Regions from separate parts of the Homo sapiens genome. Here regions 2, 3, 4 and 5 are each linked to region 1. The links come from fine-mapping of genetic effects on gene expression. A gene starts in region 1. Each other region holds a variant in brackets. All regions are shown on one strand. Distances are between the middles of the regions.

What was found.
Region 2: its variant is fine-mapped to the expression of RASAL3 in whole blood (TOPMed, PIP above 0.99).
Region 3: its variant is fine-mapped to the expression of RASAL3 in whole blood (INTERVAL, PIP above 0.99).
Region 4: its variant is fine-mapped to the expression of RASAL3 in whole blood (INTERVAL, PIP above 0.99).
Region 5: its variant is fine-mapped to the expression of RASAL3 in whole blood (INTERVAL, PIP above 0.99).

The regions. Positions count from the first base shown.
Region 1 is chr19:15,462,643-15,467,744 of GRCh38, reverse strand. It overlaps RASAL3 (RAS protein activator like 3), which reads left to right and starts at 3,201. Exons shown (of 18, transcript NM_022904.3): 1 at 3,201-3,240; 2 at 3,368-3,714. The coding sequence starts at 3,387. RefSeq lists enhancers at 2,858-2,967, 3,608-3,737, 3,838-3,977.
Region 2 is chr19:15,540,689-15,545,790 of GRCh38, reverse strand. CYP4F22 (cytochrome P450 family 4 subfamily F member 22) reads right to left here. Exons shown (of 14, transcript NM_173483.4): 8 at 5,074-5,102; 9 at 1,754-1,820; 10 at 1,512-1,641. Among named protein-coding and RNA genes, the nearest start is that of CYP4F22, 35 kb to the right of the region's middle. The variant A/G (reference allele first, on the strand shown) is at 2,933.
Region 3 is chr19:15,811,421-15,816,522 of GRCh38, reverse strand. It overlaps OR10H1 (olfactory receptor family 10 subfamily H member 1), which reads left to right and starts at 859. Exons shown (of 4, transcript NM_013940.4): 1 at 859-968; 2 at 3,645-4,293. The variant CAA/A (reference allele first, on the strand shown) is at 2,076.
Region 4 is chr19:15,504,307-15,509,408 of GRCh38, reverse strand. CYP4F22 (cytochrome P450 family 4 subfamily F member 22) reads right to left here and starts at 884. Exons shown (of 14, transcript NM_173483.4): 1 at 826-884. RefSeq lists an enhancer at 740-1,240. The variant ATT/T (reference allele first, on the strand shown) is at 2,377.
Region 5 is chr19:15,407,396-15,412,497 of GRCh38, reverse strand. It overlaps AKAP8L (A-kinase anchoring protein 8 like), which reads left to right. Exons shown (of 14, transcript NM_014371.4): 2 at 1,904-1,978. Among named protein-coding and RNA genes, the nearest start is that of AKAP8L, 9.0 kb to the left of the region's middle. The variant AAAG/G (reference allele first, on the strand shown) is at 2,546.

The DNA.
Region 1 (5,102 bases):
AAGTTTCCACTGTAGGCAAGAGAGCTCAGTCTCACTTCGAAGCCCTGAGGGAGAGCATAGGACACATACCTGAGTCATCCCACACAAGGGTTGAGGGAGCTGGGGTATTTATACACTAATTCCCACCAGTTATTATGTGAGGGCTGCTCTCAGGGACATGTTAATTCACTGGCACTTTTGGAATGCTTGTTACACAGACATAGTGGACTCCATCTGCTAGATACAAATGGCTGCAAATGTCACCTCCTCAGGGAAGTCCTCCCTGATTTTTCCAGCTCAAAGAGTGGCATTTTTGCTCAGCATTCACTGCAGCCTATTTCCTTCTAGGTCCTCCTTACCAGCTAGAAATGTCTCATGTATGAGTTTAGGATCTTATCTACCTCCATCATCTGTGAGCTCCAGGAAGGCAGAAACCAAGTTTGGTTAGTTCTCTGCGGCCTCTCCAGCACCTAGCATGTAATAGGCACTCGGGAAACATTTGTTGACTAGACAAAGGCTTACATGAATCTTTTGAAACTGATATTATCGTCTTGTACAAATAAGGAAAACGAGGCTCAGAGAGAGGAAATGACTTGTCTGAGGTCACACAGAGGGAGAGGGGCCAGCTGGTACTCGGCTCCTGGACCGGATTTATGCTGACTCATTTATTCCTCAGAATGGCATTTACTTACCTCTGGCTTTCAAGTAAACATCTGTGGAAGCCTAACAGAGATACAAGAAAGTGCTCCCAAGGGCACAGCTTGATGAATTTTCACAACAGCACACAGCCATGTAACCAGGACCCAGCTCAAGAAATAGAACATGTTAAGCCAAGCGTGGTGGCACACATCTGCAGTCCCAGCCACTACAGAGGCTGAAGCAGGAGGACTGCCTGAGCCCAGGAGTAGGAGACCAGCCTGGGCAACATAGTGAGACCCTGTCTCTTTACAAAAAAAAAAAAATTAAAATTAGCCAGGCATGGTGGCATGCACCTGCAGTCCCAGCTACTCAGGAGGCTGAGGCAGGAGGATTGCCTGAGCCCAGGAATTCAAGGTTGCAGTGACCCACAATCATGCCTGGGAATAGCCACTGTACTCCTGCCTGGGTGACAGAACAAGGCTTCGTCTCTCTGGGCACAGAGGCTGATGCTATTCCTGTATTCCCAGCACTTTGGGAGGCTGAGGCATGAGGATTGCTTGAGCCCAGGAGTTCAAGACAAGCATGGGCAACATAGTGAGGCCCCATCTCTACAAAAAACAAACAAACAAAAAGTTAAAAATTAGTCAGGTAGCATGCACCTGTAGTCCCAGCTACTCGAGAGCCTGAGGTAGGAGGATCGCTTGAGCCCAGGAGGTTGAGAATGCAGTGAGCTGTGATTGTGCCACTGCACTCCAGCTTGGCCAACAGAGCAAGACCCTGTCTCAAAAAAAAATCTTATTAAAAAAAAAAGAACATGCTAAATTTGTGTTATATGAATTTTACCTCAATTAAAAAAAAAATAGGCCAGGCATGGTAGCATGTGCCTATTATCCCAGCTACTTAGGGGGCTGAGGTGGGAGGATCACTTGAGGCCAGGAGTTCAAGAACAGCCTGGGCAACAAAGCAAGACCCTCATCTCAACAACAACAAAAAAATTGTTTTTAATAAGCCAGGTGTGGTGGCATGCAGCTGTAGTCCCAGCTACTCAGGAGGCTAAGGCGAGAGGATCTCTTGAGCCCAGGAGTTAGAGGTTACAGAGAGCTATGATGGCACCACTGCACTCCAGCCTGGATGACAGACCTCATCTACAAAAAATAATAATATTCATATTATGTATAATGTAATATTATTTATATTACTATGTAATATAAATATTATATTTTTATTTTATGAGATCTATATTATTTTTATAGACCTCATTTATAAATAATAATAATAATAAGGGCCGGGCACGGTGGCTTACGCCTATAATACCAGCACTTTGGGAGGCCAAGGCGGGCAGATCATTTCAGGTCAGGAGTTCAAGACCAGCCTGACCAACATGGTGAAACCCCGTCTCTACTAAAAATACAAAAAAATTAGGCAGGCATGGTGGTGAATACCTGTAGTCCCAGCTACTCAGGAGGCTGAGTAGGGAGAATCACTTGAATCCGGGAGGCAGAGATTGCAGTGAGCCAAGATCGTGCCACTGCACACCAGCCTGGGAGACAGAGCGAAACTCCTTCTCGATAAATAAATCAATTAATAATAATAAGAGTAATAATAAATCTTGCCATCTTCCAGAAGCCCCCCTTGTACCCTCTTCCCAGCCACCAGTGCCTCCAAAAGAAACTGATACCCTGCTTGTTAGACATGGTTTTGCCTGCTTTAGGACTTTATGTAAATGGAATCACAAAGTGTATACTCTTCATTGTTTTGGGGTTTTTAAATTTATTTATTATTGCTTTTTAGAGATGGGGTCTCCCGAGGGCAGGGAGGGGAAAAAGAAAAAAAAAAGTTAGATATGAGGTCTCCCTATGTCACCCAGACTGGAGTGCACTGCCTATTCACAGGCATGATCACAGCTCACTGCAGCCTCGAACTCCTGGCCTCAAGCGATCCTCCTCCCTCAGCCTCCTGAATAGCTCAGATTACTGGCATTTTATGGCTTTGGTTTTGGTTTTGGCTCAACATTGTTTGTGATTCACCCAAGTTAAATCATTCTTTAGTTTGTTCTCACTGCTGTATGATATTCTGCTGTGCGAAGAGATCACAATTTATTCCTTCTCCCACTAATGGGTACTTAGGCTGCTTCCAATGTGGGGCTATTATGCATTGTGCTGGGGGGGCATATCTATTGGACGTCTACCTAGCAATGGAATTGCTGAGTCAGAGAAGATCCAGCTAGTAGTGTTAGTAGATCCTGCCAAACCGTTTCCCAACATGAGTGAATGGGTCTACACTCCGGCCAACTGTGGATTAGAGTTCTAGGTGCTTTGTATTCTCGCCAGCATTTGTTCAGCCTGTACTCATTTTGCAGAGAAGGCAACGGAGGCTCAGAGAGAGGGGCAAGTGCTGCCTCCCCGTCAGGGAGGCAGTCTGGGTCCTTCTTGCTAGAAGCCTGGTAACCCACCTCCTCTCTTCTCCTCCCTCGAACCTCCAGCAACCTGCCCGCACTGTGCCCTCCCAGCCTGGCTGTGGGGTGGGGTGGGACAGAGAGGGTCACGTGGAGTTGGGTTCCGAGGGAGGAAGCCAGGCGGGGTGCAGACGGCTGCTGATTCTGGGGCTGGTCAGGAAACCAAGGTAAGGGAGGGAGTGGAGGTGGGGGCAGGGGGATTCCTGGAGGCAGAGCTGAGGGTGGGGAGGGGGCCGAGATGAGGGCAGTATGTGGACAGACACTGGGCACTACTGTCACTCTCTCGTCCCCCAGGAGACCCCCCCCCCCAACCATGGACCCACCGTCGCCAAGCCGGACCTCCCAAACCCAGCCCACAGCCACCTCTCCGCTGACTTCCTACCGCTGGCACACAGGGGGCGGTGGGGAGAAGGCGGCTGGAGGGTTCCGCTGGGGCCGCTTTGCTGGCTGGGGCAGGGCCCTGAGCCACCAGGAGCCCATGGTCAGCACCCAGCCAGCCCCTCGCTCGATATTCCGTCGGGTCCTATCTGCGCCTCCCAAGGAGTCACGGACCAGTCGCCTTCGACTCTCCAAGGCCCTCTGGGGGAGGCATAAGAACCCACCGCCGGAGCCAGACCCGGAGCCGGAGCAGGAGGCCCCAGGTACATGGTTCCCCCACCCTGAGCTTGGGCCGGGCTGGGAAGCCGGATGCTTGGGTTTTGTCTGCCTCCGGAGCATCAACCATACAGACACAGGAAGTTGTGGGGAGTGCAAAAGCCCAGCAGGAAGCCGCTGGGGCCCAGCTACCCTGTTCCCTCTTTCCCCCTAAAGAGGGTAGGAGGAGTTGCCGGGGTCCTGTGGGCAGAGGGTCCATCTGAGGAAGGAACAGTGAATGTAAACCCGTGATAGTATTGTCCAGAGGCTAAACGGCTCTTGGCCCCAACGGGTCTCTCCTTCAATGGCTCAGGCCCATCCTTTCCTACCTGGATATCCATCTTCAGCCTGCCTCCTACTCTCCTACCTTCTAGCTTCCGTGTCTTTGTTCTGAGCCCTTAAGCCTCAGCCTCTCCATCAGTTCAGTGAGAATAATGATCTCCATTTTGGAGAGTATATAATTTTATTTGCTCATATTCATTCATTTATTCAAGCAGAGGTTTGTTGAGCTTCTATTGTATGTGCCAGGCCCTGATTTAGGCACTGAGGACACACTAGTGAAAGAGACAGATGACCCTCCCTGCCCCATGGAGCTCACAGTGTAGTGGAATTGACAGGAAATCCATCAACAAGAAAATGACAGATGGGCCAGGCATGATGGCTCACACCTGTAATCCCAGCACTTTGGGAGGCCAAGGTGGGTGGATCACCTGAGCTCAGGAGTTCGAGACCAGCCTGGCCAACATGGCAAAACCCTGTTTCTACTAAAAATACAAAAAAAAAAAAGTATCTAGGCATGGTGGCACATACCTGTACTCCCAGCTACTCAGGAGGCTGAGGCAGGATAATCGCTTGAACCCGGGAGGTGGAGGTTGCAGTGAGCTGAGATTGCACTACTGCACTCCCGCCTGGGCGACAGAGGGAGACTCCATCTCAATGGAAGAAAAAAAAAAAAAAGAAAGAAAAAAAATGACAGATGGTGCTAAGTGTCACACAGGGGGATCTAGAAGAGTAATGGATATCACAAGAATTAGGGCTCAGGAATGTAACACTAGCCTAGGGCCCAGCATTTTTTTTATTTTTTTTTTGAGATGGAGTCTCGCTCTGTTGCCCAGGCTGGAGTGCAGTGGCGCGATCTCGGCTCACCGCAAGCTCCGCCTCCTGGGTTCACGCCATTCTCCTGCCTCAGCCTCCTGAGCAGCTGGGACTACAGGAACCCGCCACCATGCCCAGCTAATTGTTGTATTTCTAGTAGAGACAGGGTTTCACTGTGTTAACCAGAATGGTCTCGATCTCCTGACCTCATGATCCGCCCGCCTCAGCCTCCCAAAGTGCTGGGATTACAGGCGTGAGCCACCGCGCCCGGCCCCAGGCCCAACATATTTTAAGTGATCCG
Region 2 (5,102 bases), 78 kb before region 1:
CCCCCTGAGGCCATAAGGCAAAAGGTTGAAATAGAACCGAAAGGAACCTCCTCACTGTGTGAGTTGATGCTATTTAATGTTGCGGCTGTGTTTTTCTTCTTTTCTTTTCTTTTCTTTTCTTTTTTTTTTTTTTTTTTTTTTTGAGACAGGGTCTCACTCTGTCACCCAGGCTGGAGTGCAGTGGCGTAATCTTGACTCACCACAGCCTCCACCTCCTGGGTTCAAGCAGTCCTCCCACCTCAGCCTCCCAAGTAGCTGGGACTATAGGCATGCGCCACCCCACCCAGCTAATTTTTGTATTTTTTTGTAGAGACAGGGTTTCGTCATGTTGCCCAGGCTGGTCTCAAACACCTCAGCTCAAGCAATCCACCCCCCTCGGCCTCCCAAAGTGCTGGAATTACAGGCATGAGCCACCACGCCCAGCCTAATGCTGTGTTTTCTTTTCATCACCCAGAATCAGCTCTACATAGCATGAATCTGGTAGAGACTGGGTATGTGTTCTGATTCTCCACTTCCTCCCTGAATTAGAATTATATACCTGTACCCTTTGTCATATGATTCTTCAGTGCCTTCTGCTCAGGTGAGTGGAGTATATGTCCTGCCCCATTCATGCTGGGCTTGGTCACGTGACTTGTTTTAGCCAATGCAATCTTCTAGTGCAAGCACAGCTTTTGTTTTTTTTTTTTATTTTATTTATTTACTTATTTTATCTTTTTTTGTGGGGGGGTGGGGACAGAGTTTCACTCTTGTAGCCCAGGCTGGAGTGCAGTGGTGCAATCTCAGCTCACTGCAAACTCCACCTCCCAGGTTCAAGTGATTCTCCTGTCTCAGCCTCCCGAGTAGGGGGGATTACAGGCACCCATGACCGTACCTGGCTAATTTTTGTATTTTTAGTAGAGATGGGGTTTCACCATGTTGGCCAGGTTGATCTCGAACTCCTGATCTCAGGTGATCCACCCACCTCGGCCTCCCAAAATGCTGGGATTACAGGCGTGAGCCACCCCACCCGGCCCAAGCAAAGCTTTTAAATTTCATGGCTTTTTGTGCTTCTGGAATCTGCCTTGAGAAGAATACGACCCAGGGTAGCCTCTGGTCCAAAGAGAACAGAAAGGGAGTATATGAAGCAGATCTGAACCCAGCTCTTAGTTTTGAAGCAACTCCACTCCACTCAGCCAAGTCCAACAGCAATTAGAGTAATGAGCAGACAAGAGCAAGAAATGTGTGCATACAAAAGCAAGAAACAAATGCTTGCTGTAAACCACTAAGTTTGGGAGCTGTTCATTATGCAGCATCATTGCAATAATTGCTGACTAGGACACTTTGAGAACTTCTGCATTATGAGGTGGGCATAGGCACTATAACCACCCCCATTTTGTAGCTGAAGAAATTGCAATTCAGGAAGCTAAAGTGGCTTGTCTGAGGTCACACAATCAGTAAGTGGGAGAGCAGAGGCTTACACCCAAGGCTCTGGCCTCAACCTGCCCCCTCCATTCCCCTGACCCCACACTCACCACTCCAGCTCCTCCAGCTCCCGGCCTTTCATGACTTCCTGAATCTCTTCTCGGCATTTCTCCTGGTATTCCGGATACTTTGCCAAATTGAACAGCATCCAAGAGATCCCACTGGATGTTGTGTCGTGACCTGCAGGGAGATGAGGGTATCTGAATGGAGGCTGCCTGAAGAAAGCAGAGATGCTGTCTACAGACAATGATGTCCCTTCCTGCCCTCCTCCAGCCTCACCCCACATCCTCACCCTCAAACATGAAGGTGTCTGCTTCGGCTCGGATATCCTCGTCTGACAGTTCCTTTCCATCTTCATCCTGGAATGGGCAGTAGAGGGTGCTCAGCCCACTTCATCCCACCCTCCGCATCCTAGGGGCTCCTCAAAACTCAGATATCTCCCCGCCCCCATCTTTTTTTTTTTTTTTTTTTCTGAGATGGAGTCTCGCTCTATCACCCAGGCTGGAGTGCGGTGGCACAATCTCGGCTAACTGCAGCCTCCGACTGTCAGGTTCAAGTGATTCTCGTGCCTCAGCCTCCTGAATAGCTGGGATTACAGGCACATGCCACCACTCCAAGCTAATTTTTGTATTTTTAGTAGAGATGCAATTTTGCCATATTGGCCAGGCCGGTCTCGAACTCGTGGCCTCAAGTGATCTACCTGCCTCATCCTCCCAAAGTGCTGGGATTACAGACATGAGCTACCACGCCTGGCTCCCCTCTCTCTCTTAAGCCAAGCTGTGGGGGGAACTAGTCCAGGAAGATGGAAGTATGCAACTTGTCTAATAAAGATGGAAAGTGCCCAGCATGGTGGCTCACACCTATAATCCCAACACTTTGGGCAGCTAAGGTGGGAGGATCACTTGAGCCTAGGCGTTCAAGACCAGCCTGGGCAACATGGTAAGACCCCATTTCTACAAAAAAAAAATCAGCCAGGTGTGGTGATGCATGCCTGTAGTCCCAGCTACTGGTGAAGCTGAGGCAGGAGGATTAAGCCCAGGAGATCAAGGCTGCAGTGAACCATGACCGCATCACTGCACCCCAGCCTGTGTGACAGAGCAAGACCCTGAGTGAGAGATGCTGGTGAGGCTGTGGAGAAATAGGAACGCTTTTACAAGGTTGATGGGAACGTAAATTAGTTCAACCATTGTGGAAGACAATGTGGCAATTCCTCAAAGACCTAGAACCAGAAATACCACTTGACCCAGCAATCCCATTACCGGGTATACAACCAAAGGAATATAAATTATTCTATTATAAAGATACACGCACACATATGTTCATTGCAGCACTATTGACAATAACAAAGACATGGAATCAACCCAAATGCCCATCAATGAAAGACTGGATAAAGAAAATGTGGTACATATATACCATGCAATATTATGCAGCCATAAAAAGGAACAAGATTATGTCCTTTGCAGGGACCTGA[A/G]TGGAGCTGGAAGCCATCATCCTTAGCAACCTAAGGCAGGAACAGAAAACCAAACACCACATGTTCCCACTTATAAGTGGGAGCTGAACAATGAAAACACACGGACACAGGGGGGAAACAACACACACTTGGGGGGCCTATCAGGGTGGCAGGAGGAGGGAGAATATCAGGATAAATAGCAAATGCATGCAGGGCTTAATACCTAGGTGATGAGTTGATAGGTGCAGTAAACCACCATGGCACATGTTTACCTACGTAACAAACCTGCACGCCCTACACACGTATCCTTGAACTTTCCATTTAATTTAAAAAAAAATTTTTTGAGATGGAGTTTCTCTCTTGTTGCCAGATTGGAGTGCAGTGGCGCAATCTTGGCTCACTACAACCTCTGCCTCCAGGGTTCAAGCGATTCTCCTGCCTCAGCCTCCAGAGGAGCTGGGATTACAGATGCATGCCACCACGCCCGGCTAATATTTTTTTTTTATTTTTAGTAGAGACGGTGTTTCAATATGTTGGCCAGGCTCGTCTTGAACTCCTGACCTCAGGTGATCCTCCCACCTCAGCTTCCCAAAGTGCTGGGATTACAGGGGTGAGCCACTGCGCCCGGCTTATCCTGGAACTTTAAATTACATTTTTAAAAAACAAGAAAAAAGAAAAGAAAGATGTAAAGAGGGACAGAAAGTCAACAGTGAGGAGAAGAAGGAAGTTCATATTTCTTGAGCAGCCTCCAACACCAAGCATCCCACTGGATGCCTGACAACCTTGTGATCAGGTTTTATGATCACCATGGTATAAATGGAGAAACTGAGGCTTGGGAAGAAGAGTCAATGACTAAGGTCAAACATCCACTAAGCGACAGAGCCAGGACTGGAATCCAGGACTATTTGAATCCAGAACCCAAAAGGTCCACAGACACACCAATGAGTGACCATAGAAGTGTCTCATCTCTTCAAGGTCATGTATTTCTTTTTTTTCTTTTTTTTTTTTTTTTTTGAGACGGAGTTTCACTTGAGTGCAATGGCATGATCTCAGCTCACCGCAACCTCCGCCTCCCAGGTTCAAGTGATTCTTTTGCCTCAACCTCCCGAGTAGCTGGGATTACAGGTGTGTGCCACCACGCCCGGCTAATTTTGTATTTTTAGTAGAGATGGGGTTTCTCCATGTTGGTCAGGCTGGTCTCGAATTCCTGACCTCAAGTGATCCACCTGCCTTGGCCTCCCAGAGTGCTGGGATTACAGGTATGAGCCACCACGCCCAGCCCAAGGTCATGTATTTCATTTTTGCAATTGTGATGAGCTGAATGGTTCCCTGCCCACCCCCCCTCCGCTAGAATTCATAAGTCCTAACTTCCAGTACCTCAGGCTATGACCGTGTTTGGAGAGAGGTCTTTGCAGAAGTAATCAAGACAAAATGAACTCATTAGGGCAGGGCCCTAATCCTTATACAAAGAGACGAAGACAGAGACAGGCACAGAGGGAAGATGATCCGCAGACATAGGGAGAAGACAGCCTTCTGCAAGCCAGGGAGCAAGGCCTGGAACAGATTCATCCTTCATGGGCCTTAGAAGAAACCAGCCCTGCAGATACCTTGATCTTGGACTTCTAGCTTCCAGAACTGTGAGAGAATAAATGGCTGATGTTTAGGCCATTTAGTTTGTGGTACTTTGTAATAGCAGCCCAAGAAAACTCACGCAGTAAGTCTTACATGTTCTGACCCCATCCCAGACCCATGTGAATTTCTTTTTGTTTTGAGCATGTGTATTGTTTTGTTTTGTTTTGAGACAGAGTCTCGCTTCTGTTGCCCAGGCTGGAGTGCAGTGGCACCATCATAGCTCACTGCAGCTTCCAACTCCTGGGCTCAAGCCAGACTCCTGCTTCAGCCTCCCAAGTAGCTGGGACCATAGGCATGCGGCACCACACCCAACTTATTTGTTTTTTGTAGAGACAGGGTCTCCCTGTGTTGCCCAGGCTGATCTCCAATTCCAGGGCTCAAGCGATCCTCCCGCCTTGGCCTCCCAAAGCGCTGGGATTACACGTGTGAGCCACCACGCCTAATGGAGTTTTAACACTTATCATTTTACATGCAATTCCTCGGGAGGCCAGCCCTCGGGAGGCCAGCAATTCCAGGGGGCCCAGCCTCACCCTGGCCAGGAGCAGCACATCAATAAAGT
Region 3 (5,102 bases), 350 kb before region 1:
TCCTACATGCTCATGAAGATCTGAAGGGATACCCATTAAATTCACCGTCACGATTGCCTGGCTGGCCATTGCATGGTTTGCTGCTTTGTATGTAGCATTTCAATTACATAATAAGAAGAAACAGGCCAGGCATGGTGGCTCACAGCTGTAATCCCAGCACTTTGAGAGGTCAAGGTGGGAGGATCCCTTGAGCCAAGGAGCTCAAGACCAGCCTGGGCAACAAAGCGAGACCCCATCTCTACAGAAAAATTAAAACTTAGCCCAGGTGTGGTGGCAAGCACCTTTACTCCCAGCTGCTCAGGAGGCTGAGGCAGGAGAATCATTTGAGCCTGGGAGGTTGAGGCTGCAGTGAGCCATAATCACACCACTGCACTCCAGCCTGGGCAACAGAGCTAGACCCTGTCTCAAAAAATAAAAATAAAAACAAATACGTGTGTGTGTGTTGGTTTTAAAAAATTATTTTAAAGGACATTTAGTTGGGCAAATGACCCAGTTGGAGAAGAATGAAGGTGACGGGGCATATCAAGGCAGCCTCTGCAGTCCCTGGGGGCAATGGCAGGGCTGCCCTCCTGTCAATTTCAACAGTCATGGGCCCAAACCCCAAATCTGTAGAGCACTAGACTCTGCTCAAGCTCTTGACAAGCTCAGGGAATTGACTCACCCCTGGCAGGCGGGGGGAATGGGAAAGTGAGGATACAGATTCCCTGAGGTTGCCTCCTCTCTGGCAGGGTCCCTGGGGTCCCAGCATCCCTGTAGCGGAGACAGAGACAGTAGGACCACAGCGAGGGAAGCCGGTGGGCAGGGAGTCAGGGAGGGATAAATAATCGCATTTGGGCTCAGTCAAGCCCCCGGCTCAGCTGGTGTGGCTGCTTGGTGCAGCCCACACCTGGTCAGCTCCCACCTGTGGAGAAACTCCAAACTAGAGCCTCCTACTGGGATGAAGCAGAAGCAGATGCCTGGAGTCCCAGGTGAGTCACCTCCCCTCTCAGCCACCTGACCAGGAGAGACCTGGGGAACCAGCACCTGCCAGGGACTCCAAGAAACCACCTGTTTATATTACTCCTTTAGCAATGTGAGTCTACAGGGCAGTGGGTGACAGGCAGAGGCCACTCACCACGTCTTAGTCAGTGTGCTGTTTGCTTAGCAGGACTTACCTTCTTCTATTTTTTTTTTTTTTTTTTTGAGACGGAATCTCGCTCTGTAGCCCAGGCTGGAGTGCAGTGGCGCAATCTCGGCTCACTGCAACCTCCGCCTGCCAGGTTCAAGCGATTCTTCTCCCTCAGCCTCCTGAGTAGCTGGGACTACAGGTGCGTGCCACCATGCCTGGCTAATTTTTTGTATTTTTAGTAGAGACAGGGGTTTCACCATGCTGGACAGGCTGGTCTTGAACTCCTGATCTCGTGATCCACCCGCCTCGGCTTCCCAAAGTACTGGGATTACAGGCATGAGCCATCGTGCCCAGCCAGGACTTGCCTTCTTTAGAGCTCCTGCTGCCTCATGAGGTAGGTCCCTTGGATGGGGGAGGTAACAGGTGCAGAGAGAAGACAGCCAATGCTCAATGTGACCCAAGGTGATGGTTTGATTTTAACCTCTCTTCTCGGTCTGTCCAGGCAAGAAGTCTACGGAAAAAGGATTGGGAAGAGGCGGAGAAAAGAGAGAAAGAGGATTCAGGGTTCAGAAGCTCCAGCCACCACCCCAGGGTGTAAAGAATCAGGGTGGGCCGGGTGCAGTGGCTCATGCCTGCAATCCCAGCACTTTGGGAGGCCAAGGTGGGAGGATCACTTGAGTCCAAGAGTTTGAGGCCAGCCTGGGCAGCATAGTGAGACCCTGTCTGTACAAAAAAATACAAAAATTGGCCAGGAATGGCAGGCACCTGTAGCTACTCCAGAGATTGAGGTGGGAGGATTGCTTGAGCCCAGGAAGTTAAGGCTGCAGTGAGCTGTGATTGTGCCTCTGCACTCCAGCCTGGGTGACAGAGGGATACCCTGTCTCTCTCTCTCTCTCTCTCTCTCTCTCTCTCTCTCTCTCTCTCTCTCTCTCTCACACACACACACACACACACACACACACACACA[CAA/A]GGGAGGCGTCAATGGGAGCAGGTGGTGAGGGAATGGTTAGGAGCTGGGGATGAGAAGATGGAGAGAAAAGAGAGGGAAGTGGTGGCTTAAGTGGAAGAGAGGGGAGGCCAGACAGCTTCACTAAGAAGAGAGAGCCAGGATGGGTGAGAGTTAAGGCCAGATGGGGTCTCAGAGACAAGACAGGCCTGGCCCATGGAGTGATGCTGTCACCCAGGAGACACGTGACAACGTATAAGGACATTTCTGATTGTCGTGACTGGGGAGTGCTGCTGGTATCTATCTGGTGGGTGGAGACCAAGAATGCTGCTCAGTCTCCTGCAGTGCACAGGACACCCCTCTGAGAGAGAATGATTCGCCCCTAGCGTCCCTAATGCTGAAGGCAGGAAACCCTGCTCTAGGGATGTCTGTGGCAGGACTTGTCCACAGCCACGCTTAGCCCTAGAGTCTCTGAGTGGAGAACTGGCCCCACCGGGTGTTCCTGTCAGTGCTAGACAGTGGGCTTGCTTGCTCTCTCTCTTTCTTCTCACCTTTTTCTTCTCTTTCCCCTCTGTCCTCTCTTTCTCCCTACCTCTCTTTCCTCTCTCTGTTTCTCTTCCCACCTCCCTCTCTCTCCACTTCTCTCTCTCTCCCCACCCTTCTCTCTGTCTCTCTCTCTCTTTCCCCAACCCTCTCTCTCCCCACCTCCCACACTCTCTGTGTCTCTCTCCCCACTTCTCTCTCCCCACCTCTCTCTGTGTCTTTCTCCCTGTCCTTCTCTCTCTCTCTCCCCCCACCTCCCACTCTCTATCTCCCCACTTCTCTCTCTCCCTCCATCTCTCTCTCTCTCTGTGTGTGCTCTTTCCCCACATCTCTCTGTGTCTCCACCTCTCTGTCTCTCTCTTTCTCTCTCCCCACCTCTCTTTCTTTCTCTCCCCACCTCTCTCTCTCTGTTTCTCCCTCGCCTCCTCTCTCTCTCTCTCTCTCTCTCTCTTCCCCTGCCTCTCTCTCTATCCCCATCTCTCTCTTTCTCTTCCTACCTTTCTCTCTCTCTGTTTTACCTACAGAGGAACCCACTGGATGTTCTGCTGGTGAATCAATGCCCAGAAGCTCTAAATCCTCCTCGCTGCTATCCTAGTCCCACATCCACCATGGGTTTGGTTTTGTTTTACTTTTTAAAATTAATAGACTTTATTTTAAGAGCAGTTTCAGATTTACAGAACATAGAGCAGATAGATACTGCAGAGAATCTCCATATACCCTCTCTCCGCCTGCACACAATTTCCCCTATAATTAGCAACTGGGATTTTTTTTTTTTTTTACCATTAATCTGTTACAACTGATGAACCAGTGTTGACACATTGTCATTGACTGAAATCCACAGTTACATTAGAGTTCACTCTTGGGGCTGTACATTCTCTGGGTTTTGACAAATGCACAATGTCCTGTATCTACCATGACAGTATCACACAACATAGTTACACTGTCTTAAAAACCCTCTGTGCCCCACCCATTCATCCCTCCCTCTCACCCACTGGTCCCCTGGAAGCCACTGATCTTTTGCTGTCTCCATGGTTTTGATTTTTCCAGAATGACTGGACTACCCTTTTAGCTGCATTCTGCATCCCATCATTCCAGACGGTGTTACATGCAGCCCTCAGCTACCTCCTACAGACGTGATCGGCTCCTGTCCTCTCAAGGTTTCTCCCTCCCTCCCTTCCTTCCTCCCTCCATTCCTCCCTCCCTCGTTTCTTCCTATCTCACTCTCCTTCTTTCCTCCCTCACTCTCCTTCCTTCCTTCCTGCCTCCCTCCCTCCCTTTCTTCCTTCCTTCCTCACTCTCCTTCTTTCCTCCCTCACTCTCCTTCCTTCCTGCCTCCCTCCCTCCTTTCTTCCTTCCTCACTCTCCTCCTTTCCTCCCTCACTCTCCTTCCTTCCTTCCTTCGTTCCTTCCTTCCTCCTTCCCTCCCTCCCTCCTTCCTTCCTCCTGCAGTCCCCATCCTTCCTTCCTTTTATCCTTCTTTCCTTCCTCCCTCCCTCCCTCTCTTTCTTCCTCCCTTTTTTCTTTCTTTTCCTCCTCCTCCTCCTCCTCCTTTTCTCTCTCTCTCTCTCCCCCCACCTTGTTCACTCACTCGCTGTCGATTCTTGTGATCTGAATTGATATGAACAAGAGTGTGTAGACGGTCAGTCATGGGGAAGCAGCATCTCCTAGTGGCCTTTGAAACAGCCACCAGCAACTGGTGAGTATAACAAGAGGTTAGGAAAAGACAGGCTTTGAGATCAATCAGACCTAAGCTCAGACCCTGGGCCCCCACTTCAGACTCAAGGCACCTAAGGCAAGTGATGTGTCGTGGGTTTCAGTTTCCCTGTCTGTAAAATAGGGATCAGAGCAGATGACTTCTAATGTGGGGGTAAATATTCAATAAGAATAGCATGAGTGATGTGAGTGCAGTGCCTGGTCTGTAGGACATATCCAGTAAAGGGCAGCTGCTCTCATCGGTGTTGTTGTTGAGTACACAGCACTGGTGCTGTAGACACAACAGTCCTTGGCTTCAGGGATTCACAATCAGGTTCCAGGGATAGACACAGCTCCAACATGACATATCACGGCAAACATCATAACAAAGTCATGAGCAAGGAGCTTTAAAGTTACTTGTAGGAGGCACAGAGCGAGAATTGAACCAATGCCTGCTGTTACCATTAACTGGGAATCATTATTTTGAAAGCACCCAGGAATGGGTGGCTTAATATGCCTTGGGAAGAAATATCCAGGAGGACTGCATGGAAGAGGTGACATCTAAGCTGAATCTTAACAACAAACAGGGGTTTGCCAGGTGAAGAAGTGGAGGAATGGGGATCCCAGCAGAGGGAGGGTGTGAAGGAGTTGCGGCTGCACTCTCTGGATCAGCGGTTCTCAACTGGGGGTGACTTTGAGCCCCATGGAGACATGGGTGTTTTCTGGAGACATTTTTTGGTTGTCATGACTGAGCAATGGCTGCTGGCATTGAGTTGACAGAGACCAGGGATGCTACTAAACATGTTATGAGAC
Region 4 (5,102 bases), 42 kb before region 1:
ATCTCCTTTGCCTACAGGGCGGTGAGACTCACAATGAGTGCATGAATGAGCTGTGAGCGGGCAGATGAACCAGGAGAGATGCCCTGAGCCTAGGCCTCTCCAGCCTGCGACTCCCCAGGTGGCCAGCCTCGGCCAACTTGCATACCCAGGCTGGGCCAGGCCCCTGGGAGGCCAGAAAACATCTTCCTTCCAGCATCTATCAGACGAAGATCACCTGGGACCAACCCCAGGACCTCACACAACCCTCAGAGCCAACTCTCGGGGCCAGAAGAACACCGTCTTTTCATAGAGGGGCTCTGCGTCTGGCATGGATGGGCAGAGGGTTCCTGATAGCAGTTGAACCACAAGCCTAACCCCATCGGTTGAATGTACTACAACCTCCCCGTCAAGACAACGTGCAGTGGTGAAATCTCAGGGCGAATCCCCATTCAGCCCCAAAGAGGCGTCCCAGGGCGGGGCTTGAACCCATCTGGGATGTCCTGACTACCAGAGGGGTCTTTTGGAGGCCCCCTGCCCATCACAGATACCCAGAGAAAAGGATGCGCCTAGGACTCCGAGGCGCACACAGAAAAAAAAAAAAAGAAAACAACTCACAAATGCAGCAAACGTCGGGGACACACCCACGTGCCCCTCTCCCCACGAGTGCCCCGGGCATGCAGCCCCGTCCTGGGTCCTGGGGGGGTCCCCGTGGCCGGCTGCGCCCCGCCCGCCGCCGCGCGCAGACCTTCGCCCTTGCCCCGCCAGCACCGAACCGCGCGAGCCTCGGGTTCCAGCGCAGCGCCGCGGCCGCGCTCAGGTTACAGCCCTCACCACGCGCGCACTCACCCGCGGGTCTCAGCCTCCTGCCCTCGATCCGGATCCACCGGCGCCACTACCTGGGATCTGACCGCGCCGTCCCACGGCCCAACCCTTTAACCCCGCCCGGCCGTGCCGAGGGGTCCGCCCCCGGACATCCCGCCCCGGGCTCCCGCAGGGTTCTGGGCGGGGACTCCAGCGCTGCCCCCTAGAAAAGGAGAGAACAAGAAATAGGCGTGTGGAGGGGTGGAGAGCGATGGAAAGAGAGAGAGACTGAGACTGAGATGGAGAGATGAAGAGAGACAGAGACTTGGACACCTAGAAGTCCCAAACCATCAGGCTCCCCGCCCTCCTGCCACTGCTGGGCCGCATTAGCGCCCAAGTCCCGCTCTGGACCACACTCCTCCCACACCAACACCCCCCATGGCCCTTACTTCCAGGTTTGCTCCCAAGCTTGGACAGCGATCTCTAAACCATCACCCCCTGGGGCCCCACTGACCCCCCCGAGAAGCCTCCTCTGGGGCCCTCAGGAATTCTCTGGCTCCACCAGCCCTTGGGAACCAGCCCTTCCCCTCTCTCTGGATCCTGGGCCTAAGCTTCCCCGGCACCCACCCCTGGAGGCTCTGCAGCCTCTTCCTCCAGGAAGACCTCCAACCTCAACAAGCAGCACCAGACTGGTTCTGCTCCCCGCCAACCCGCCCTCCGCCACTCCTCCCCACCCACTGCCAGACACCTTGACCCTCTGACCAGGATGTTGTCCTTGGCCAACCCGTCTACTCCAGATGTGTGGAGACAGAGTCAGCTCCGCCTCTGGATGTGTCTGTCCTCCGGAGTCGGTGGGTGGATGTGTGGCTGACCTTAGCACGTGGGCAGACAGATGAGAAGACAAGAATCTCCACTTGCCCCAGCAGGTGGTAAACTTAGAAGACTTCCTTATCCCTCTTTTTTCTAAGAATACGCTCTCATTTGGTGCTGGGCCCTTGGAAAGAGGGCGTGGGAGGTGTGGGGCATGTCTCCTGGTGAAGAAGAGGAGACACAAGTAATTGAAGTTTTGCTGCTTGGAGGAGGCAGACATGAGGTCAGGGAAGGCGACGTGGAGGATGTGACACTTGAGCTGGGACTGCATGGAGAGGTTGGATTTCAACAAGTGCAGGAGAGGGGGTAGAGCTCAAGCACAGAGAAACTGGAGGGTGTGACTTAGCAGATGGCTTTCCCTGGCCTTGGAGTGTGAGAGGTGTGGAGGCTGGAGGGATGCAGGAGTTGACTGTGAAGGCCAGTTTGAATGGCTGGATCTTGATCTGGTGGGCAGTGGGGAGCCATGGATGGTGCTTGAGTAGGGGAGGTGCCCCCTGTTAGTTGATTGGTCTCACTCTGTCATCCAGGCTGGGGTGACTCCTGGGCTCAAGCCATCCTCCTGCCTCAGCCTCCTGGGTAGTTGGGACTACAGACACGTGCCACCACACCCAGCTAATTTTTTTTTTTCATTTTTTTAGAGACAGGGTCTCACTATGTTGCCCAGGCTGGTCTCAAACTCCTGGGCTCAAGCCATTCTCCCAGCTCCTAGAACTTTTAAAAAAAAAT[ATT/T]TATATTTATTTGTGTCTTTAATCTTTTTTACTTCTGAGGAAGAGCTTATTTTATTAATTTTTTATTCATAATTAACGCAGCATGAAAGCCTATTTTTTAGGGATATGAATTTTGTTTTGCCAGTAATTCTGGCCAAGGGGGAGCTTACTAGAAGCACTTTGGAAAATGCAGAGATCCACATAGAGTGAAGTTTGAGAGGGACCCCTCCAGTGGCTGCAGGGGACAGAGACAAAGGGTGGGGGTAGCTGAGACCCAGGAAGGGGTTAAGGATGAGGTCCCGGAGGTCATCTCCACTGACCACTGGCTAAATACGGGGTTCTAGGGAAGAGAGAAGGAAAAGAAGCCATCTGCCTGGCTTCTCTGCTCTCAAAGAGCTGGAGACCAGGAAGGAGGAGTAAGTGAAAGGGCCTGGAGCACTAAGAGTGGGCTTCGTGGATGTGTGGCCTTGAGCTAGTCACATGGCTGCTCTGAGCCTCCATCTCCCTATGCATAAAATGCAGAAGAAGCCCATGTGATGAGGTGGTGTTCAGCCCCACTCCTGGCACAGGGCACAGGCTGGACAAACATCAGCTGTTTGAGTTTGCAGTTGATTGGGGCCATCCCAGCAGAGTAGAGTTTTCCGCCAGGGAATGTTTAGCAACATCAGGAGATCATACTGCTGGGTGGGGGGTAGAGGTGGGGGTGGGGGAATTCAGGGTGGTGCAACTGACATCTAGTGGGTGAAGGCCAGAGATATTATTCAACATCCAGAACACCCCCACCCCCAAAGAATAATCCAGGCTCAAATGTTGACAGTGCTAAGATTGGGAAACCGTGGGTCACCTTCAGTCTAAAAGTCTCGTGGGTCTCATGGGATGACATTCAGGGAGACATCCAGGAGGCAGTTGGGCTCAGCGTGAGGGCACCTCCTGAGAATTGCATCTGTGAGTCACCTGCCTTGGGAAGACGGTGGATGGCATGGCAGTAGGTCAGCGAGATCACTCAGGAGGGAGGTGGGCAGAGAAGAGGAGGGGAGGGCAGAAGTGGGGATCACAGCCACTTTTTTTTTTTTTTTAAGATGGAGTCTCACTCTGTTGCTCTGTTGTCCAGGCTGGATACAGTGGCACAATCTTGGCTCACTGTAACCTCCGCCTCCCGGGGTCAAGCGATTCTCCTGCCTCAGCCTCCCGAGTAGCTGAGACTACAGGTGCCCACCACCAAGCCCGGCTAATTTTTGTATTTTTAGTAGAGACGGGGTTTCGCCGTATTGGCCAGGCTGGTCTCAAACTCCTGACCTCAAGTGATCCACCTGCCTTGGCCTCCCAAAGTGCTGGGATTACAGGCATGAGCTGCCGTGCCTGGCCTTTTATTTTATTTTTTAATCAAACAGAGTCTTGCTCTGTCACCCAGGCTAGAGTGCAGTGGTGCTATCTTGGCTGACTGCAACCTCCACCTCCCGGGTTCAAGCAATTCTCCTGCCTCAGCCTCCTGAGTAGCTGGGATTACAGGCTTGCACCACCACGCCCGGCTAATTTTTGTATTTTTAGTAGAGACAGGGTTTTGCCATTTTGGCCAGGCTGGTCTCAAACTCCTGACCTCAGAGATAATAGCTACATTTATAGAGAGGACAGGCAGCAGCACTGAGCTGGAGCTGGAGATGGAGTTTGAGAAGAGTGGTAGTAGGGACCATCACTGGCACCTAGACGTCAAGGAACCCAAGCTCTAGAGCTGTGTGGTTCCCATGCCACCAGAGCCCTCAGCCTGCCACAGCCCAGGGCTCAGTGGGGTGAGGTTGAAGTGGGAGGGGAGGAAGTGGAGGCTGTGGCTGGACTTGGGAAATGGTAGTAGAAAGCTGTCTGGGAGTGGATGTGGCAGGTCATGGCAGGGAGTCAAAGATAAAAAGAAGAGGGATCTCGCCATACCCTGCTGGTGGCAACGTAAAATGGTTCAGCCACAGTGGAAAACAGTTTGGGAATTTCTCAAAAAGCTAATCAGAATTACCATAGGACCCAGATATTCCACTCCTAGGTATACACACACAATAACTGAAAACAAGTACTTGCCAGGTACAGTGGTCTACAGCTGTCATCTCAGCACTTTGGGAGGCTGAGGCAAGAGAGCATCACTTAAGCCCAGGAGTTCCAGACTAGCCTGGGGAACAACATAGCAAGACTTCATTTCTACAAAATATAAAAAATTAGCTGGACATGATGTGCGTACCTATAGTCCCAGCTACTTGGGAGGCTGAGGTGGGAGGATAGACAGCTTGAGACTGGGAGGCTGAGATTGCAGTCAGCTGAGATTGTACCACTTCACGCCAGCCTGGCTACAGAATGAGACCCTGTCTCAAAAAAAAAGAAAAAGAAAGAAAGAAGAGACAGAGAGAGAGAGAGAGAGAGAGAGAGAGAGAGAGAGATAAAGAGAAAGAAAGAGAAAAGAAAACAGTTACTCACACGTAATTGTAGAGGAGTGCTCGGGATAGCACGATTTATTATAGCCAAAGGTGGAAACAACCCAAATTCCACCAACAGATGAATGGATAAACAAACTGTGGTCCATCCATACAATGGAATATTACTCAGTCATAAAAAAGAATAAAGGCCGGGCGAGGTGGCTCTTGCCTGTAATCCCAGCACTTTGGGAGGCCGAGGCAGGTGGATCACCTGAGGTCAGGAGGTTGAGCCAGCCTGGCCAACATGGTGAGACCCTGTCTCTACTAAAAATACAAAAATTATCTGGGCACG
Region 5 (5,102 bases), 55 kb after region 1:
AGTGTCAGGATTAGCATCAGTCATAGTCTGTAGGAGCACTGGTTTCTGATAGAGGTAGAAGTTTTCCTTACTTGGCACTAACTCATTTTATTTTATTTCATTTATTTATTTATTTTGAGATGGAGTCTTGCTCTATTACCCAGGCTTGAGTGCAGTGGCACGATCTCCACTCACTGCAATCTCCGCCTCCTGGGTTTAAGCAGTTCTTCTGCCTCACCCTCCCAAGAACCTGGGATTACAGGCAGGTGCCACCACACCCAGCTAATTTTGGGGTTTTGTTTGTTTGTTTTGAGACGGAGTCTTGCTCTGTCGCCTAGGCTGGAATGCAGTGGCATGATTTTGGCTCACTGCAACCTCTGCCTCCTGGGTTCAAGCGATTCTCCTGCCTCAGCCTCCTGCGCAGCTGGGACTACAGGCACACACCACCACGCCCAGCTAATTTTTGTATTTTTAGTAGAGACAGGGTTTCACCATATTGGCCAGGCTGATCTCGAACTCCTAACCTCGTGATCCACCTGCCTCGGCCGCCCAAAGTGCTGGGATTACAGGCGTGAGCCACTGTGCCCTGTAATTTTTGTATTTTTAGTAGCTAATTTTTGTATTTTTAGTAGAGATGGGGTTTCACCATGTTGGCCAGGCTGGTCTTGAACTCCTGGCCTCAACCAGTCCACCCCCCCTTGGCCTCCCAAAGTACTGTGAGTACAGGCATGAGCCACTGCATCCAGCCCTAATTCATTTTATGTTGAGAAATAGTTTGAAAGTTGAGAAGATAGGAAATTTTATGTATATATAATAATACTTATTTCCATATGACCATGCCACCCCAAATAATTACTTTTAAGAAATAATTGTTTTTTGTTTTTGTTTTTGTTTTGAGACAGGGTCTTGCTCTGTCACCCAGGCTGGAATGCAGTGGCGCAATCATAGCTCACTGCAGCCTTGACCTTCTGGGCTCAAGTGACACTCCCACCTCAGCCTCCCAAGTAGCTAGGACTACAGGCACATGCTGCCACAGCTGGCTTTTTTTTTTTTTTGTAGAGACAGGGTTTCACCCTGTTGCCCAGGCTGGTCATCTTGGCCTCCCAAAGTGTTGGGATTACAGGCATGAGCCACTGCCCGGCCCAGAAATAATTGTTATAATTGTTATACACACTTTTTAATGGGAAAACCAAAATAAAAAGCAGTTTCTGTTTCAGATTTAGAACAGGGAGGGGGGTATTATTTGCTTTAACATGGTTTTGAAGCTAACCTCCATCCTTGTTTGAATTCCAAGTGGCTCACCCTTCAGGGATTTGAATAGTTTCCTCATTTAACAGAATGATAACTTGGGTGTTCATTTCTCAAAATAGGCTACTGGCTTAAATGTTTAAAAATTTTTATTTGGGGCCAGGCTCTGTGGCTCACACCTGTAATCCCAGCACTTTGGGAGGTTCAGGAGGGTGGATTGCTTAAGCCTAGGAATTAAAGACCAGCCAGGGCAACATGATGAAACCCCATCTCTACAAAAAAGTATAAAAATTAGCTGCGAATGATGGCACGAACGTATAGTCTCAGCTACTTGGGAGGCTGAGGCAGGAGGATTGTTTGAGCCTGGAAGGTCGAGGTTGCAGTGAGCCGTGATCATGCCACTGCGTTGCAGCCCGGACAGAGTGAGACCTTGTTTTTAAAAAGTAAATAAATAATTTTTTAATCTAGTCCTCCTGGTATAGCAAGTTAAACATAGCCTGCCTTTCCATTGGGTAATATTTTCTGACGGTCTAATTAAACTGTGGAATCTAGAGGTTTTGGTGGCTTTTCGTTGAGAGAAGGGCCTGCTGGCAATCCTATACCAAAGGTTAGGTAGTCTCAGGTCATTTCCCTGTGACTTGCTTGTGGAAATTAACCCCACTGTCTTTATGTTTAGGCTTTGTCCAGGGATCTGAAACCACTTTGCAGTCGACATACTCGGATACCAGCGCTCAGCCCACCTGTGATTATGGTAAGTGTGGACTTCTGGTGGGAACCAAAGTGTTCTGCAGAGCAGTTCCTTGTCTTCTTAGTTGCCTTTGGCTTTGCTGTCACCCTGTCATGCTTTTTTAAACCTAAACTTGTGTGAAATGGTGTGGCCATTTGAATAGCTAGTGCTTCCCTTTCAGGCAATTATGGGAAAAGTAGCTGTGTTCCTGAGCAAGTTAGGCTCTTTGATAAAAGGCCTGGCTTCAAATCCCCATGGGGGAGGGACTGGGAGTCACAGTGGCCAATTAAAGTCCAAAGGAGGCCAGGCGCGGTGGCTCCTGCCTGTAATCCCAGCACTTTGGGAGGCCGAGGCGGGTGGATCACTTGAGGTCAGGAGATCGAGACCATCCTGGCCAACATGGTGAAATGCCATCTATACTAAAATACAAAAAATTAGCCGGGCATGGTGGTGTGTGCCTGTGGTCGCAGCTACTCAGGAGGCTGAGGCAGGGGAATCACTTGAACCCGGGAGGCAGAGGTTACAGTGAGCCGATATCATGCCACTGCACTCCAGCCTGGCAACAGAGCAAGACTCTGTCTCAAAAAAAAA[AAAG/G]TCCAAAGGATTGGTCCAGGAGAAAGCAAGCTATTAACTTAGTCCCAGCATAGTGCATGTCCTTGCTGTGGGAGAGAGGCTGAGTGTGTGAATCTGGCAGCTTTTGGAGACTCAGCCAGGCCACCTCAAGCCAGCAGGCTCCACACACACAGAGTTGAGTGAAGATCTCTGATTGAGTTTTCCAGCGTGGACAGAAACACCTAATTAGCTAATTCAGAAGTAGCCACCAGTAGGATTCACAGATGCTGTTTTGTTTGTGTGCTGTGGCAGCCCGGACTGCTGTTAAAGCTGGTTTTTGGTTGTCTGTGACTCTAGGGGTATCTGTTGAGAAGGAGCCCTCTTTGGAATTAACAGGGATAATGTCTTAGTTACTGAGATGGGTAATTTCTTTTACTACCAAGATCTGGGGAAAGACTGATCCTACACAGCTAACATGCCTTCAGGGGTCACTGCATAAAGAGACTTAAGTAAGCTCCCCAAGTAACAGCAGCTAGTCCCAGGAAAAGGGAAGACTTAAAATATTTTGAAATTGAGTGAGAAGGTATCAGGTGTCTCATAAATGAGGAGAAACTTGGTTTGCTTGACTTCCCTGTGCTGCCCTCCCTGCCTCTCCCTTTTCATCAAATGTAGTCCCTAATTGCACATCCTTTTGAATTATTTTCCCTCTGGATTGCATATTCTGAGTACAAGCCATTTCTCGGATATGCCATTTACAAATATTTTCTCCCAGACTGTGGCTTGTCTATTCTCTTGTCAGTGTGTCTTGTCTTGTGTCAGAAAGAACACAAGTTGTTAATTTTGAAGCCCAATTCAATCTTTTCTTTAATAGATGATGGTTTTGCTTTTATATCTAAGAAATCTGTAATATTTTCTTTAGAATTTTCTTTTAGGTGTTTTAGTTGTGGGTTTTACATTTAGTCTGTGATCCATATTGAGTTAATTTTTCTACAAGGTGTGCAGTATAGGTTAAGGTTTCTTATTCTTCTATGGCATATAAATATATAATTGTTCCAGCACCATTTGTTTAAAAAACAAAAACAAAAACAAAACCATTTTTTCTTTCTTTTTTTTTTTTTTTGAGACAGAGTCTCACTCTGTCCCCCAGGCTGGAGTGCAGTGGCGCGATCTCAGCTCACTGCAAGCTCCGCCTCCTGGGTTCATGCCATTCTCCCGCTTCAGCCTCCCGAGCAGTTGCCCGCCACCACGCCTGGCTAATCTTTTTGTATTTTCAGTAGAGACGGGGTTTCACCGTATTTGCCAGGATGTTCTCGAGCTCCTGACCTCGTGATCCTCCCGCCTCGGCCTCCCAAAGTGTTGGGATTACAGGCGTGAGCCACCGCGCCCGGCCTCTTTCTTTCTTTCTTTCTTTCTTTTTTTTTTTTTTTTGAGATGGAGTTTCGCTCTTGTTGCCCAGGCTGGAGTGCAATGGCGCGATCTCAGCTCACCACAACCTCCACCTCCCAGATTCAAGCTATTCTTGTGCCTTGGCCTCCCAAATAGCTGGTATTACAGGCATGTGCCACCACGCCTGGCTAATTTTTGTATTATTAGTAGAGACGGTTTCACCACATTGGCCAGGCTGGTCTTGAATTCCCCATCTCAGGTGATCCACCCGCCTTGGCCTCCCAAAGTGCTAGGATTACAGGTGTGAGCCACTGTGCCAGGCCTATATTTTCTCTATTGAATTGCCTTCGTACCTTTACTGAAAATCAGTTGACCATATACTGTGGGTCTATTTCTGGACTCTTGGACTCTCATTCTGTTCCATTGGTCTGTACATCTAAATTTCGTTCAGCAGCACGGTCTTTTTGTATTTTTAGTAGAGACTGGTTTCACCATGTTGGCCAGGCTGGTCTCAAACTCCCGACCTCACATGATCCACCTGCCTCGGCCTCCCAAAGTGTTGGAATTACAGGCATTAGCCACTGCGCCTCGCCCAGCAATGCAGTCTTGATTACTGGTTAATAGTAATCTTGAAATATGAGTCCTCCAGGTTTGTTCTTTTTTCCAAAATTGTTAGTTTCTTTGCTTTTGCATATAAATTTTAGAATCAGTTTATGAAGTTTTTTAAAAAATTCATGCTGAGATTTTGAGTGAGAGAGCCTTGGATCTATAGATCTATCAAATCTGTAGAATCTATAGATTAGTTTGAGAAAATTGACATCTTAACAATATCAAGTCTTCTGATTCATGAGTGCAGTATGTCACTTCACTGATGTAGTGTTTTGTAGTTTTCAACACAGATCCTACACATACTTTGTTAGATTTACGCCAAGTTTTTCATGCTTTTAGTGCTATAGGAAATGGTACTTTTAAAAACTTTCCATTCATTGCTGATATATAGAAATTTGATTGCTATTTGATTTGTAGGTTTACCTTGTAATATTTGAAATTTGACTTACAGATTGACCTTGTAATAAACCTTGCTAAGCTCACTTATTCTAGTAGCTCTTTTGTAGATTTGTTTGAGATTTTTTTACATACACAATTGTGAAAGAATAGAGATGGATTTATTTTTCCTTCTGGCTTGAATTGCAAGAACAATATAACATTT